Linked DNA regions of Homo sapiens: region 2 is linked to region 1. Evidence: fine-mapped expression QTL. A gene starts in region 1. The other region holds a variant in brackets. All regions are shown on one strand. Distances are between the middles of the regions.

Region 1 (5,376 bases):
ACTGGAACATATTATCCTACAGCACATCATTGTATTTTAACTTTCATCTTAGCAGTTATCACTATAGGATATGTTTTTCCTTGTTTATTTCCTTAATGTGCTGCCTGTCTACTATAGAATATAAGCTCTGTGAAAGCAGGTCCTGGGCTGTCTTATTTATTTCTATGTCCCCAGTGCCCCCCAAAAATGTTCAGTTAATGTTTATGATATAATTGAGTTAATGAGATTGCCTCAGCATGAATTGTGATTCCTTTTCTTTGCTCAGAGACATCCAAGATTCTGAGAGGGGAAGTGACTGTCCCAAATCCAATTCAAGCTTTTTATCTTCTTTTTTCAGGCCCTTCCTGTAAAACCTGGCTGACACACAAACCTAGCTGGGGTGAGGCTCCAGGTGTGATGAAAGTTTGGAGTTGCCCCATGAATGGGACTGAGGCTGATGTGGGGGTGAGAAGGCGGAAGGACAGAGCATGTGAAGGGAGAAAGGCAGGCTGGGGCAAGAGAGCAGGGTGTGACTCTGGCGAGGGTGGGGGAAAGGGGGTGATTTGACCATGTGTCAGGAAGTGTTTCTCTCCACCCTCCCCTGGGGAGAGCCTTGACCCCAAGGTGGCTTTGTTTTGGGGAAGCAGGTGGCCAGGCAGCTGCTGAGGGAGGGCAAAGTCATGGCTTGGGCGGTGACCATGCACTGAGGTCCTAGGCCCGATACTCATCACCCAAAAGGATAATCTAACAGTGGCTCTTAGCCAAATAGGTGACAGGTGAGCTTCTGTCTGAAACCAGCCCAACTATATCATAAAGCCTCAGATATGGCCTAGGGGAAGGCAAGCGATCTAGAGAAGTGAGAGAAAAGAGGCCTCTAAGGAAATAGAGTGGTCAAGTGCTTAGTGATTATTATTAACAGCAACAATAATAATGGGTCACATTTATTGAGAGCTTATAGTGTGCCTGGCACTATACTAACTACTTTTATGTGTTCCCGCATTCATTTCTCAAAAAGCTCCCTACAAAGTAGTCATTATTATTATTGTTATTATTTTTTCCATTTGAGAGACGTCAAAACTGAGGCTCAGTGAAATTAAGTTTCTTGTCCAAGGTCACACAGTAAGTAGCAAAGGCAGGATTCAAACTCAGGTCTGTAGTGATTCCAGTGCACTATGGAAACCTAGGCCTAGGTTACTGGAGCAAGTTAAGAGGGCAGGGCCAGACTGACCCCTGCAAAGGTGGGGATAGGGAGGGACAGTGGGATAGACTGTGTATAAATAGCAGGCCTGTTTTTATCCCTACACACAGGCAGAATCCGGCAAGTGCTCTATCTGGCACAATTTCAGGGCTCTGAAAGCCAACCCAGCCCTGTGTCAAACAACTCTCTCCCCAGCACGTCCCTGGAAACTGAAATACCTACTGAGACACTCATTTCTTTGGGTCAGGACAGTGACTCCAGAAGACCCCTGCAAAAGCACATGGGTTGGAAGAGAAACACCTAGTGTCTGTGAAACAGCAATCTAGGTTAGCCAGCTGGGTCCTATGGGAGGGTGGCTCATTTTTTATGTTGAGGAAAAAGGTGGCAGTCAAAGGCAAGGAAAAGAATAAGGCTTGTTTCACAACCTGTGTCTCTCCAATCTCAGAAGCCTGGGAATTACAACCCATAGTTCAAAAATCCTAATGTCCCCTGAGGGAAGATGGGAGGAAGCCACTCCAGAGACTAAGAGAGTACTAACTTCCTTTGCTTTTGCTGGATTGATACTAAGTGCCTGCAACTTCAACTCTGGTTATCTCGGGTTTATGAGAACGGCTGGCATTCACGTGTCTAATTTTTAAATGATAGATGAATTAATTATTATTTGATACTTGCCGTGTTGGTAGGCCAAAAGGTGGGCTTCTGAAACTTAGAGGGTGACAGGGATGGAGACCCCTGGTATGGGGCTTAGATGAAGCAAGAGGCCAGGCCCGGAACAGAACTCAGCTCAGCAGTCAGTCACAAGGCTGCAGAGTGACAGGCGTTTGGGGAAAGGTAGGAACCGCTCTCCGCCACCTGCCGGTCAGTAGCCCTACCCACAATCAGGCCGCGGCTGCCTCGGCCTGGTCCCAAAAATTGTGAACGCCGCCCTCTCCTCCCGCCCAGTCCTCCGCCGCGCCCGCGGGGTCGGGGGCTGCGCTGCCGGCGCCGCGAGCCGGGCGAGCTTCCCAGCACGGGAGGAGGGAGGGGGCGGCGCCGGGCGGGGCGGAGCTTCCGCGCCTCCTGGAGCCTTATTCCCGGCCGCGAGCCGGGCAGCGCTCATTCGGCCGAAGGAGCTACGCGGGCCACGCTGCTGGCTGGCCTGACCTAGGCGCGCGGGGTCGGGCGGCCGCGCGGGCGGGCTGAGTGAGCAAGACAAGACACTCAAGAAGAGCGAGCTGCGCCTGGGTCCCGGCCAGGCTTGCACGCAGAGGCGGGCGGCAGACGGTGCCCGGCGGAATCTCCTGAGCTCCGCCGCCCAGCTCTGGTGCCAGCGCCCAGTGGCCGCCGCTTCGAAAGTGACTGGTGCCTCGCCGCCTCCTCTCGGTGCGGGACCATGAAGCTGCTGCCGTCGGTGGTGCTGAAGCTCTTTCTGGCTGCAGGTAAGAGGGCTGCCGACGCCCCCGGAGATCGGGGGGATGGGGGCGTTGTGCTGGGGGCATGGGGGAAGGTCGCCGCAGCGCACCCGGCACGGGCCACTTGGTGGGGCCCTTGCGCTCTGGCGGACGGGCGTCGGCATCGGTGCGTGTTGGTCAGGGGTCTGGGCGGGTGTCTGATGCGGCCTGGCCTCTCGCCCGCAGTTCTCTCGGCACTGGTGACTGGCGAGAGCCTGGAGCGGCTTCGGAGAGGGCTAGCTGCTGGAACCAGCAACCCGGACCCTCCCACTGTATCCACGGACCAGCTGCTACCCCTAGGAGGCGGCCGGGACCGGAAAGTCCGTGACTTGCAAGAGGCAGATCTGGACCTTTTGAGAGGTGGGTGTGGAGGCCCCCCATCCTTGGACCTTGGTGGGCTGTTGAAGAATAAGCAGATCCAAGATTCTTGCTGTTTGGGCAATACTGTGGGTTGAGGGTATTCATGGAGAACCTCGGGGAAAAGCTGATCGGCCTGATGGGCACTGGGGGATCCTGGAATATAGGTCCCACTCTCTCTCTCTTGTCATTGCCTCACCTGCTGGGTTGCTGCCCTTCTGGGTACTCCGGGGCAAATTGAATCAGACGTGTTGTCTGGGGTTGTTACGTTCTTCTTAGGTAAGCTGGGTGATAGGAACAAGGAATGGTTGAGATGCTTTCCCTAGAGCTACTATGTAAAAATGGGCGCCAGTTCTAATTCCCATATCAAATGACTATTATATATAAAATAGAGGTAACACATGCGGAGATGCCCAGGCACATCTCTAGAAAGTGTGCAGTGTTGGCCTCCTCCATCCACCTGTCTCCAGATTGGGGAAACAGAGGGGAATGAGGAGCTCTTGGCCGCCCTAGATGAGGCTGTGAATGGTGAGCACTGAGCCCCTAGGGGGCTGTATTAAAATGCTGGATATCTGTGAATGCTACCGGAAACCTGCAGCTTACTGAGCACCTTGCATTCCTGAGGAGACTCCAAATGGGGAGGGCTGTGTAGGATCCTCCAACCAGCCTCTTTGGCTGTGGCCAAGTACAGGTACAGGGCAGAGTCCAGAGCCTGCCAGCTCTCCTGCCTCCAAACCTGAGGAGATTATCCAGAGTAGAGCAAGGACTCAGCACTGTACCCTGGAATGACTATATTTGGTTGGACAGATGCCCACCTGTTCTAGTTCCACCTGCTCCTCAGCTGCCCTTCTCCCTCATTCCCAGGAGCTTTCCTTGGATACTCTCTCTACTTTGTATAAATCAAGCACATACTCCAAAACTGAGCCTGGGCTCCCATACTTCATCCTCTCCCAGTGGCCCTCTGGGGTTGCCCATGACCTGAACAGCCTGGATTCTCCTGGCCCTCTCCTCCTAGGCTGGGCAGGGCTGGGCTGTGACTCACCCCACCCCCACCCCCCACCCACACGGCTGCTCCTCTTACCTCTGCAGACCTGACTCACTGCTCCCTGTCCATGGCAGGAGCCTGGCTGTCACCCTGCACCTTCTCCCTCCCCTTTCTGATTGGCTTGGCCCCCCTGCCTTGCTCTCCCCGAAGCTCTGGTCACTGGGTTCCTCTGACCACCTGTATCACCTTCTGAGCTCTGAGGGGGCCTGGGACTGGATGAGAGGAAATGAAAGACTGTGGGGGCTGCTGGCACCTACTTCTCTTCCCTTCTTTTGGCTTTGCTGGGCAAGGACTATTTTTCAGGTCTGGGGATCCTACCACCTAAAATAAATGACTGCTACCATTTATTAAATTCCTACTGTGTTCTAGGCACTTGATATGTTATCCTGGCTAATGTAACACTTATAGCAACCTTTTGAGATAGTTACTTTGGCTATCCACATTTTACTGAGAACCTGAGGTTCAGAGGAGTTAAGTGACTGCCCACAGTAAATAGCTGAAATTGGAGCACAGGTCTATGGACTTCAGAGCCCATTCATGCCTGGATCAGCATCTCAGGTGCTCTAGACTTGTGAGAGGGAGGAGATGGGAGTGTGTGAGGCAGCTTGGTGTGGTGAGGAAGGACATTGGAGTGAAGTCCAGAGAACACAGTTCTAATCCCAATCCTGCATGACCTTGAGTAAGTCACTCTGCCTGCCATGAGTTTTTTCTTTTTTTCTTTTTTTTTTTTTTAAACATAGTCTCACTCTGTCACCCAGGCTGGAGTGCAATGGCACGATCTCAGCTCACTGCAATCTCTGCCTCCCAGGTTCAAGTGATTCTCCTGCCTCAGCCTCCTGAGTAGCTGCGATAACAGGCACACACCACCACGCCCGGCTAATTTTTGTATTTTTTGTAGAGATGAGATTTTTGCCATGTTGGCAAGGCTGGTCTCGAACTCCCGACCTCAGGTGATCCACCTGCCTCAGCCTCCCAAAGTGTTGGGATTACAGGCGTGAGCCACCGTGCCTGGCCACATGGTATTCTTTGAAGTCCCTCTAGCTTGAGACTCTAAGTCTCTAGTCTAACGTATCATGCTTACCCTTCTGTAAGACACATGGCTGTAGCCATGGATGTGGGCACCTTTTTCCTGATGGGGGATAAAAGGGTGGGATTGGGCTGATAGGCATAGTCCCTGGTCAATCCCAGCTGGATATCTGGGTGAGGCTGTTTTTCCCCCAGTCTCTCTGAAGCATGGAAAGAAGGAGGGAGTCATCATTGTTCCAGTTCCTTCTGGACAGTTCCTTACTTTCCATTTTTCTATCCCTTGTACACCCTGTACCCCCCAATCCAGAGAGCTATAAACAGGACATTGGGGGTTAAATATG
Region 2 (5,376 bases), 61 kb after region 1:
CAATAGATAATATGTGTATATATGCTACTAATTCATGTGTATGTACATATCTACAGTTGTTTCTGTGTCTGTTCATCACTGTACACATACTAAGCTGATTGTGAGTTTATACTGATATCTCCGACTCTTCGATACCACAGGGTTCATTTTAGCCTTCCTTTCTTGCGTATCTGTAACTTCTCTCTCATATGAGAAACCCGGCTCCTACCATCCAGTGTCCATTTACTTATTTATTTATCCCCATACACATATAAAGCAATTTCAGAATTGTTTGCCTGTATCTCCTGTGAGAAACAAATTTAACCAACTAGTTAATCCAAGGTTGATTGGATTATTTGTATACATATATTCACATACACACATATTTATAATAACTTACATTAGAGCCACTATAATATGGTACGAAAAAGACCGAGTGTTCTAATCTAATACATACAAGCTGGGCAAGGTATTTAACCTGACTAGGTCTTATTTTTGTACTTGGTAATTTTTTACATACTTAGAAAACTTTGGCCGGGCATGGTGGCTCACTCCTATATATAATCCCAGCTCTTTGGGAGGCTGAGGCGGTTGGATCCCCTGAGGTCAGGAGTTCGAGACTAGCCTGGACAACATGGTAAACTCCTATCACTACTAAAATACAAAAATTAACTGGGTGTGGTGGCAGGCACCCATAATCCTAGCTACTCCAGAGGCTGAGGCACGAGAATTGCTTGAACCCTGGAGGCGTAGTTTGCAGTGAGCTGAGGTGGCATCACTGTACTCCAGCCTGGGCAACAGAGCAAGACTGTCTCCCCCGCCCCCCCCCCCCCCCCCCCCCCCGCAAAAAAAATTGAGGATTCAAGAGGAAACATTTTTCGAGCAATGAATTTTAAAAAGCTCTCTCTTTCTTTTCCAGTCCCATTTCATCTTTGTGTAAATCCTTTTTTATTTTACATATTTTTTCATCTTGAAAATGGAATGACATGCTGATTTTTCTTTTTTCTTTTCTTTTTTTTTTTTTTTTTTGAGACAGAGTCTCACTCTGTCACCCAGGCTGGAGTGCAATGGTACGATCTTGGCTCACTGCAACCTCCGTCTCATGGGTTCAAGTGATTTTCCTGTCTCAGCCTCTCGAGTAGCTGGGATTACAGGCACCCGCCACCACACCGGCTAATTTTTTTGTATTTTTAGTAGAGATGGGGTTTCACCATGTTGGCCAGGCGGGTCTCTAACTCCTGAACTCAAGTGACCCACCCACCTCGGCCTCCTAAAGTGCAGGGATTGCAGGTGTGAACCACCACGCCTGGCTGACGTGCTAATTTTTTAAACTTGAGTTTTTACTTACTTACTAACTTACTATATTGACATCTTTACATGTCAATAAAAAAAATATTTTTTTTTAAATTTCGGTTTGGTTTTTTATTTAATTAGTCATTCTTTTTTAAAAAAATTTATTTATTTTTTAGACATGGGGCATTGCTATGTTGCCTGGGCTGGACTTGAACTCTTGGATTTAAGCAATCCTCACACCTCAGCTTTCTGAGTAGCTAGGACTACAGGTGCATGCCATTATGCCTGGCTGCCCCCTTGGTTTTATCTCCTGTTTTGTATCCTATTTCTGTGCCAGTGTGGATACTTAAGGTCTCCAGGATTCAGCATAAACTCTCAGGATGAAAGCCAATTTACTGCTGTCTTACATTCCTGAATTCCCAGTTTCACTTCACTTTGGACCTTTGTGGAATCCTTCCTTTTGTGTTAGTTCAACAAAATGTTAAAAAAAAATTTTTTTTTCCTTTGTTTCTAATCAGGAGTGTTCAGGGTATCTACTCTTCATTATGCCAATAACAGAAGTCTGTAACTCACTGAGCAGTCCACAATGTGGATGTGCCATAAAGTTTTAATCACTTCCTTACTAAGGAAGTGATTAAAGTAAGAAATAAATTCAATTTAAAAAAATTTTAAAAAAAGAAGTTCAATTTATTTCTACTTGCTTCCACGCTAAAAATTACGACGTAAAAATTCAGTAACTTTCCTCACCAGTGGAGTTAGGCAAAGAAGCAAGATAGGCTCATTCTTTTTTTTTTTTTTTTGAGATGGAGTCTCGCTCTGTTGCCCAGGCTGGAGTGCAGTGGCGCGATCTCGGCTCACTGCAAACTCCACCTCCCGGGTTCACGCCATTCTCCTGAAGATAGGCTCATTCTTATGTCTTTTCTATGCTGCTTAATTTGTGAATACCCTGAAACCTAAATGCTAATAGGATACGTTTTTAGACACCCTCTAAAAATTTCCCACCCAAAGTGAACTCGTCATAAGCATTTTGTTGTTTCTGAATAGCATATGTCTAGGTGACCATACTTT[G/A]GAAATTGTGTCCAAAATGCAGCAGTGCAAGTGATCTGGGATTGTGTTTTGGGCAGGTGAACAATGGTTTTGATTCATACTGAGTTATAAGAAAGTGGAAGTTGTACCAAACTGCAGGATGATTTAGAAAACGGAGTCTGATGTTTCTCAAATAATCAAAACCGAAAGTCTCAGAATTATGTTTTCAGATGGCATAATTACAAATAAATGAGGAAGTGAAATAGCAGGTTACAAGTCCTTGAGAGTGGACAGTGCAGAGGCACGTGGCACTGATTTCCAGGTCAAAGAAGAGGCCTTTTGCAAAGCATCAACTCGAATTCAGGTTATATAATCCTGAGTATTTTAAGCATGTTATCTGCATATTATTTGTCATGAGAGAATACTTTCCCTCTTCATGGTTTATTTTTCCTTATTGGTACATTTTGAACTCCAGAATTCTTTATTTACTATTTGGCTTTCCATAAACAATCAGGCAGAATGACTATGAGATTCTCTACATTGAGCAACTGTGTACATAATATTTGCTTATGATAAGACTTATATTATCATGATAAATCCTTTCTCTTCACATAGTATCTGATAATCCAATGCCCTTTTAAACAATAAGAAAGATGTTTTCCAAAGACTTTTTTTCAGAAATCAGATGTTTCTTGGAGCCTTTTCCAGTCTTCATACAATATATCTTTGCCATTTTTTAAATTGAGGACTAAACCAAACTTTCCATAAGTTTTTGTGTTTGAATTTTTACTGTGTAACTACTCTTTGAGGTAGACATTTGCATTTACCCAACATTCATCCTTGTTAAAACTTGCGTGGCTGAGATGTCCTTAGGTTTGTAGTAGTAAGTTGGCCAGCTTCGGTGGAATCTCTCTGGCCTTTGAAGTTGGCACAGTCCAGTATAGCTACCTCAAAGGATATGTGGTCATGGAAAAACGTGTTTTTGTTGTTGAGTGTTCTTGCTTTCTAGTAATTTTATTTTCTGCTCAAGAGATTTAGTATCTGTTCAGATACTTTATTTTTAAAGGCCACATAAGTAATGACTTGACCTCTAATCTTAGCTTTGAAATTTTCCCAGACACTAATAAAGATGATGTCTGATGACCTTTTATTTGAGAATAGTACTCATTGGCCAGCTATCAGTGCTACTTAAAAATGTATATTTTACTCAAAAAATTATTTCCATGGCTAAAAGACTTTCTCAGTAAAATCACACATGTCATGACATAATTTGGTGACTCTTGCACCTTGTTTTAGAATAGTTTTTACATAACATTACTGAGACTTAGTACTGTTCAAAACAACTCTTCTCTTCAAATACAAATATGAGTTAGTTCTGAGAAAAATATTCTGTAAACCATAATCTTATCTGAAATAGCACCCATCTCTTGGATCCAGTAAGAATATTTTAGACATGAAGGGTTCTATAGTAAAAGACCTGGAATTAATCCTTGTTTTGCATGAATGTGGGCTCTCTTTCCTGTAAATATACAGTAAGGTTTTACAAAGAATCAAGTTACTACTGAAGACTAAGATCATCAGTTGGGCTGGGCTGGGCGTGGTGGCTCATGCCTGTAATCCCAGCACTTTGGGAGGCCGAGGCGGGCAGATCACGAGGTCAGGAAATCGAGACCATCCTGGCTAACATGGTGAAACCCTGTCTCTACTAAAAAATAGAAAAAATTAGCCAGGCGTGGTGGTGGGCGCCTGTAGTCCCAGCTACTCGGGAGGCTGAGGCAGGAGAATGGCATGAACCCGGGAGGTGGAGCTTGCAGTGAGCCAAGATCATGCCACTGCACTCCAGCCTGGGCAACAGAGCGAGACTCCGTCTCAAAAAAAAAAATTATCTGGGCTGGCCGCATTAGGATATAAGCTTAATAATTAGTGGAGTAAAAGAAGTTCTTCAGATTTTATTAATATGTGTGGTAAGGCTTAGTTATGAAGAAGAGGGGACAAGGCAGTTTCCTTCCAGGTGTTGGGGCATAGCTAATTGCCCTTTTTGGTCTGTTTTTACTTGTCTTATATCTATAATAACGGACTCTCTTGATAAGAACCCACCTAGGCACAATGATGTTTTTGTGGGGTTGGCAGAGGAAACTGCATGTTGCTACCTTGATGTGTTTTCTCGTTTGACTTTTTGTTAAGAGATGATGTTTAGTTCTTTGTTGCTGAACTCTGTTAGTGCAAAGAGAAGAAAAATCTTGCTTAATTAATTGCAATATTAAATTGAAATATATTTTAGCTTCCTTAGACAGTCCTGAAAGAGATTTGCATAACTGGGGTCTTCCCTTGGTTCCAGTGGAGGGGAAATATTTCAGTTCACTTACTTGGGGCTATAAAAGTTTGTTCTTCCTTTCCCTGAAGCAAGAATTGTGAACATAAAGTCATAAAACAGTTTCAGTGTTAATTTTTAAAACTTCTCCATATTTCCACCCTCATCAGTGGTAAATAATGTGCCTGATGTAAAATGGAAAAAGTTGAAAATTTCCACTTGTACATTTTGAGCTTTTCAGAGGTACTATATACACTCTGGAAATAATAATAAAAGATACTAAGGCTTATACAGTGCTTTTTGTTTGAGGAACTCATATAAACACTAATGCATTGATCCTAACACAGTGCTTGATTGTGACTTTAAAAGGTCATGAGTTACTGCTGTTACAAAAAAAAAAAAAAAATGGAGGGGCGCTCCACTTTACAAATATAGTTTAAAAAATATCTAGATAAAAATTGAAACAGATAACTGAAAAAACAAAACTTATAGGGTATTTGTTTGTATGTTGACTTTTCTCTTAGCGTATGATATATTTTTATTCCTTTATTATTTTTTCTTTTACATATGAATCTACTTGAAGCCTGATTTTCTTTTCTTTTTTTTTTTTTTTTTAATGTTTTTAAGACAGGATCTTGCTCTGTTACCCAAGCTGGAGTGCAGTAGCACAATCATGGCTCACTACAGCTTTGATATCTCAGTCTCAATTGATCCTCCCACCTCAGCCTCCCTAGTAGCTGGGACTACAGGCGTGTGCCACTGTGCCT

What was found. PIP is the estimated chance that this variant, and not a neighbour inherited with it, causes the effect.
Region 2: its variant is the best candidate, but not a certain one, in a credible set for the expression of HBEGF in whole blood (INTERVAL, PIP 0.89).

What each region holds. Positions count from the first base shown.
Region 1 is chr5:140,343,502-140,348,877 of GRCh38, reverse strand. HBEGF (heparin binding EGF like growth factor) reads left to right here and starts at 2,275. Exons shown (of 6, transcript NM_001945.3): 1 at 2,275-2,595; 2 at 2,794-2,967. The coding sequence starts at 2,550. RefSeq lists silencers at 1,991-2,040, 2,081-2,360.
Region 2 is chr5:140,282,044-140,287,419 of GRCh38, reverse strand. All of the region lies in intron 2 of PFDN1 (prefoldin subunit 1), which reads left to right. Among named protein-coding and RNA genes, the nearest start is that of PFDN1, 18 kb to the left of the region's middle. The variant G/A (reference allele first, on the strand shown) is at 2,341.